Regions from separate parts of the Homo sapiens genome. Here region 2 is linked to region 1. A link means that fine-mapping ties the variant in region 1 to the expression of a gene that starts in the linked region. Tissue or cell type: whole blood. Region 1 holds a variant in brackets; the other region holds the start of a gene. All regions are shown on one strand. Distances are from middle to middle.

The links. PIP is the estimated chance that this variant, and not a neighbour inherited with it, causes the effect.
Region 2: SCGB3A1 starts here. The variant in region 1 is the best candidate, but not a certain one, in a credible set for the expression of SCGB3A1 in whole blood (TwinsUK, PIP 0.54).

The regions. Positions count from the first base shown.
Region 1 is chr5:180,508,204-180,511,103 of GRCh38, reverse strand. All of the region lies in intron 1 of CNOT6 (CCR4-NOT transcription complex subunit 6), which reads right to left. Among named protein-coding and RNA genes, the nearest start is that of CNOT6, 15 kb to the right of the region's middle. The variant C/T (reference allele first, on the strand shown) is at 1,367.
Region 2 is chr5:180,589,922-180,592,821 of GRCh38, reverse strand. SCGB3A1 (secretoglobin family 3A member 1) reads left to right here and starts at 1,323. Exons shown (of 3, transcript NM_052863.3): 1 at 1,323-1,411; 2 at 1,984-2,222; 3 at 2,568-2,717. The coding sequence starts at 1,360. The coding sequence ends at 2,591. RefSeq lists enhancers at 1,122-1,791, 1,792-2,461, 2,462-2,900.

The sequences.
Region 1 (2,900 bases):
TCTGGACACGGTGGCTCACACCTGTAATCCCAACACTTTGGGAGGCCGAGGCAGGCAGATTACCTGAGGTCAGGAGTTCGAGACTAGCCTGGCCAACATGGCAAAACCCCATCTCTACTAAAAGTATAAAAATTAGCCGGGAATGGTGGCAGGTGCCTGTAGTCCCAGCTACTCAGAAGGCTGAGGCAAGAGAATAGCTTGAACCCGGGAGATGGAGATTGCAGTAAGCTGAGATGGCACCACTGCATTCCAGCCTGGGTGACGAGAGCGAGACTCTGTCGCAAAAAAAAAAGTAACTGTGCTATTTTCCATTATTACAAAACAAAAAGCCCCAAAAGACACTCACCCAAAAATCAGTCCCTCTTTGAATACAATCTAAATGACAATTCATTTATAGGTATATTAAAACTTTTAGATAATGAACATTTAAATGTCATATAAAGACAATAATTTAATAAATGCTATTTTTAAATACACATACTCTGGAATTTCAAATTACAATTATGACTGAGATGGCAGGCCTACCACATTCTTTAATATATTCGCCTGCTGTTTTGCCAAGTGTATGATTTGAATTCTACAAATTAAAAATATGTGCCTGTGCCTCTAGTATAAACAAACCCACTTAGTTCCATTAGACGATAGTCACAAGCCTTTCTCGCAGCCTCAATTCAGTTAAGGCACTTCTACTCTCACTTCAAACCCAAAATCTGCTGCCTCCCAATGTCATCACATTTGTTTGTTTCTCTTTCTAGTCAGGTTTCCTTCACATATTGGCCAGTTAAAAGTTTACGGATAGAAGTCCTGGCTACTCGGAAGGCTGAGGTAGGAGGATAGGCTGAGCCCAGGAGTTTGAGGCTATAGCGTGCTATCATTGCACCTGTGAATAGCCACTGCACTCCAGCCTGGGCAACACAGAAAAACACCATCTCTTAAAAAAAAAAAAAAAAAAAAAAAAAAAAAAAAAAAGGTTTACAGACGATAAACCTCATTTAGGAGCTGTCCTTAGTGGCAAATGTCTATCATTAGTCTTTCCTTGTAGGAAATCAAACAAAAAACAGCAACAACAAAAAGCTTCTGCAAAAGATAACTACTCTTGACTAACAGGCAAAACTTAAATCATAACTACACATTTTGAGACTACTATAAATTGCTGATGATACTATGGCAGGTATCTTGGTATCAGAACCCCGTGATAATCTCCCAAAGCAAACCATATGAATTGCATAGGAGGAATTTAACAAAGAGTAGCTAGTGAAAAAAAAAAAAAAAAAACACCAAGGTATCAAAAAGGTCTTACTAGGCCACGGTAGGAGGATCACTTCAGCCCAGGAGTTCCAGACTGGGCAGCATAGGGAGATCCTGT[C/T]TCTACGTAAAAATAAAAAATTAGGCTGGGTGTGGTGGCTCACGCCTGTAATCCCGGCACCTTGGGAGGCCGAGGCAAGTGGATCACCTGAGGTCAGGAGTTACACCAACATGAAGAAACCCCATCTCTACTAAATACAAAAAAAAAAAAAAAATTAGCCAGGTGTGGTGGCGCATGCCTGTAATCTCAACTACTTGAACCCGGAGGCAGAGGTTGCAATGAGACGAGAATCCGCCATTGCACTCTAGCCTGGGCAACAAGAGCAAAACTCCATCTCAAAAAGACAAAAGCAAAAACAAAAAAAATCAGGGCCGGGTGTAGTGGCTCACAACTGTAATCCCAGCACTTTGGGAAGCCAAGGCTGGCAGATCATTTGAGCCCAGGAGTTCAAGACCAGTAACATGGCAAAACCTGGTCTGTAGAAAAAAAAATACCAAAATTAACCAAGTGTGGTGGCATGCCCCTGTAGTTCCAGCTACTTGGGAGCCTGAGGCGGGAGGACGGCTTGAGCCCAGGAGGCGGAGGTTGCAGTGAGCCAAGATCGCACCACTGCATTCCAGTCTGGGTGACAGAACCAGACCTTGTCTCAAAATAAAAAAATAAAAATAAAATAAAATAGGCCGGGCGCTGTGGCTCACACCTGTAATCACAGTACTTTGGGAGGCCAATGCAGGTGGATCACGAGGTCAGGAGTTTGAGACCAGCCTGATCAATATGGTGAAACCTGTCTCTACTAAAAATACAAAAATTAGCTGAGCATGGTGGTACTTGCCTATAGTCTCAGCTACTCGGGAGGCTGAGGCAGGAGAACTGCTTGAACCCGGGAGGTGAGAGTTGCAGCGAGCCAGGATCACGCCACTGCACTCCAGCCTGGGCGAGAGTGAGACTCCCTCTCAAAAAAAAATAATAATAATAATAAAATTAATTAATTAATTAAAATAAGATACATTAGCTGGGCATGTTGGCACACACCTGCAGTCCCAGCTACCTGGGAGAATGAGGTGGAAGGATTGCTTGAGCTCTAGAGATTGAGGTTGCAGTGAGCCATGATGGCACCTGTGCTCTAGCCTGGGTGACCGTGAGACCTTGCCTTGAAAAAATAAAAACATAAAATAAAAAACTTTACTAGGCTGGGCGTGGTAGCTCACACCTGTAATCCCAGCACTTTGGGAGGCTGAGGCAGGTGGATTACAAGGTCAGGAGATCGAGACCATCCTGGCCAACACGGTGAAACCCCGTCTCTAATAAAAATACAAAAATTAGCTGGGCATGGTGGCGTGCGCCTGTAGTCCCAGCCACCCAGGAGGCTGAGGCAGGTGAATCGCTTGAGCCCAGGTAGCAGAAGTTGCAGTGAGCCAAGATTGCGTCACTGCACTCCAGCCTGGGTGAGAGAGCGAGACTCCGTCTCATACTAAAAAAACAAATTATCATCTTGGTCTTCAATCCTGCCCTTTCTCCTATGCTTACACCCAGATTTCCAAACCAAAAATATGAGCATATCCTTGACCCTTCCTTACCTAGTCACAGTCTTCAT
Region 2 (2,900 bases), 82 kb before region 1:
CAAACAAACAAAAAACAAAATCAAAATCCGCTGAGTGTGGTGGCTCACACCTCTAGTCCCAGCTACTTGGGAGTCTGAGGTGGGAGGATTGCTTGAGCTCAGGAGTTCGAGACCAGCCTGGGCAACACGGCAAGACAGTGTCTTTACCACCACCAAAAAAGTAATTAACTTCAAACTGTTTTTAAAAAAGAAAACGTATTTCCCATTAAAATTACTTCCATGATGACCAACAAAACACAACCAAACTCCAGATTTATAATGCAAAAATCCCCCAAACAAAATAGTCAAGGAAAAGTGTAAGTGAACAGAAACAGTGTGAATGCGTGTGCCTGGCCACAACAGTTGGCAAAGGCACAAGTGTCTGCAGGTGCGGAGGAGGCCGCAGTAGCTCGGGGTGGCTGAGGGCTAAGACGTGCTGTCAGCCATAGGGAAGGAATTCCAGGACACTGCCTGAAGAGTCAGGTCCTCCCACCCGGGAGCCTGTTTCCCACGCGTGCCAGCTACACTTTACAAAAGAAAAGAGAGACTTTGCACCAACCTAGCTGAGAGCAGCCACGCAGCAAAACGTGAGTCACTCAGTGCTCAATGCCTGGGGTCAAAAAATAGAGGAAAGAAGAAGGACTAAAAGCAAATTAGTTTATGTATCATTTGCAAAAGTTTTCAAAATGTGCTTTGCTCTCCATCTGTCATACTTCTGCAGGTGACAGACGAGTGAGGACATTTAGAGAAACTCAGGAACAAACCAGGCCCATCCACTGGCGTCGAGGCTAGTTTCGAAGACAGAAAAACGCCCCACTTCTGTTTGCACTGTGGCTGCCTGTGGCCCGGCCGGGGAGGCGGCCGGGAGTGAGGCCTGATCGTCCCTGGCGCCTCCACCTCCCCAGGCGCAGAAGGCGCCCACGAGGACCCCCAGTGCCCGACGTTGCCACGGTCTGGGATCAGAGGCAGGGACCAGGGAGCCAGGAACTGCGCCGCCCCCGCCCCTGCCCTGGCGCGAGGGAAGCTCCCCTCACCCGGGCCCAGCCCTGCAGGGGGGCGCGTGGGGTCAGACCGCAAAGCGAAGGTGCGGGCCGGGGTGGGCCTCGCGGAGACAAAGGCCGGGCCTGCCTGCTCTCAGAGGGCCCCAGCGCCTGCCAAGAGGAAGTCCTCGAGGCCCGGGCAGGGAAGGGGGCACGGGCTTCCCAGGGCCCGCCGGCCGCAGCAGGAAGTTGGCCAGGGCACGGCCGTGAGCGGAGCGGGCAGGGCTTTCTCAGGAGCGCGGGCGAGGCCGGCGCTGGAGGGGCGAGGACCGGGTATAAGAAGCCTCGTGGCCTTGCCCGGGCAGCCGCAGGTTCCCCGCGCGCCCCGAGCCCCCGCGCCATGAAGCTCGCCGCCCTCCTGGGGCTCTGCGTGGCCCTGTCCTGCAGCTCCGGTGAGCGCCCCGGGCTCCTGGCGCGCACGGTGGGGCCTGAGGCCTCGGCGCCCGCTGCGCCCCCGCCGCTGCCTGCGCCGATCGTGGATCCCAGGTCCTTCCAGCCTCGCCCGGCGCCCAGAGGGCTCCGCCACCCCGGGGCCCCGCGCCTGCAGCCCGCGGCCTCCCCCTCTCAGGGCTGTCTCCAGCCTCGTGCCGGGATGGAGGCCGCCCCTGGCCTGGGGACACCCGTCTGCCCCCCGTCTGGAGACCGGCTCCTCATCCTGCAAGGCGCAGCGCGAGTGTCCCCTCCCTTGGGGGCCTGTCCCGGACCCTGCACAGAGTTCACCGGTCCTTCCGCCACCCTCAGGCCACTCCGGTGACCCTGCAGCGTCTCCTGGCGGGGCCGCCTCCCCAGACCCGCCTGTGTCCCGGGGGCTCGCACCTGGCAGGCCTCGGCGCAGGAGGGAGGGGCGGTCGGGGAGCCGGGCAGGGCGCGACGGTTCCTGGGCGCCTCCCGCGGGGGCGCGTCCTGGACCTGCCTTCTGGGGACCCCGGCGCGCAGGCGGTGACCCCTCCCTGTTCGCTTGCAGCTGCTGCTTTCTTAGTGGGCTCGGCCAAGCCTGTGGCCCAGCCTGTCGCTGCGCTGGAGTCGGCGGCGGAGGCCGGGGCCGGGACCCTGGCCAACCCCCTCGGCACCCTCAACCCGCTGAAGCTCCTGCTGAGCAGCCTGGGCATCCCCGTGAACCACCTCATAGAGGGCTCCCAGAAGTGTGTGGCTGAGCTGGGTCCCCAGGCCGTGGGGGCCGTGAAGGCCCTGAAGGCCCTGCTGGTAAAGTGGGCACCCCGGGTGCCCTTCCTGCGCGGGCATCCCTTCCCGGCCAGCCTCAAAACTGCACCAGAGGTGTCCCGGCCCTACGTCAGGGCTGTTTCCCGTCCTGCCCCTCCAAGCCCTGTCCCTGGGAGAAGCCCGGGTCTCCGGGTGGGAACTGGGTGGGGCGCATCCGAGCTGCAGGGGCGGGGAAGGCGGAGATGGCCCCGCGCGGGTGCGCGTCCCCCGGAGACGCCAGCGGAACCGCCCCGCTCCCGCTCCCCACAGAGCCGGCCGCTGCCGCGCCCCCGCCTGAGTTCTTGGTGGCAGGGCTGGGGGCACTCAAGCTCGGCTTCTGCTTTCCAGGGGGCCCTGACAGTGTTTGGCTGAGCCGAGACTGGAGCATCTACACCTGAGGACAAGACGCTGCCCACCCGCGAGGGCTGAAAACCCCGCCGCGGGGAGGACCGTCCATCCCCTTCCCCCGGCCCCTCTCAATAAACGTGGTTAAGAGCAGCTCGAGCCTGGTATTTTCTCATCCAAATGCTGATCCCTGTGGGGGACCGAGAGTGCCAAGTCCCAGATTTTGTGAGGGGTGCTGCGTGAGAGAGGGAGAGAGAGGCCGCGAGAGTCTGCAGGTGGCATAGAGCCAGCAGTGCAAGGTGACAGAGATGGGGCCAGTATCAGAGGTAAACCGGA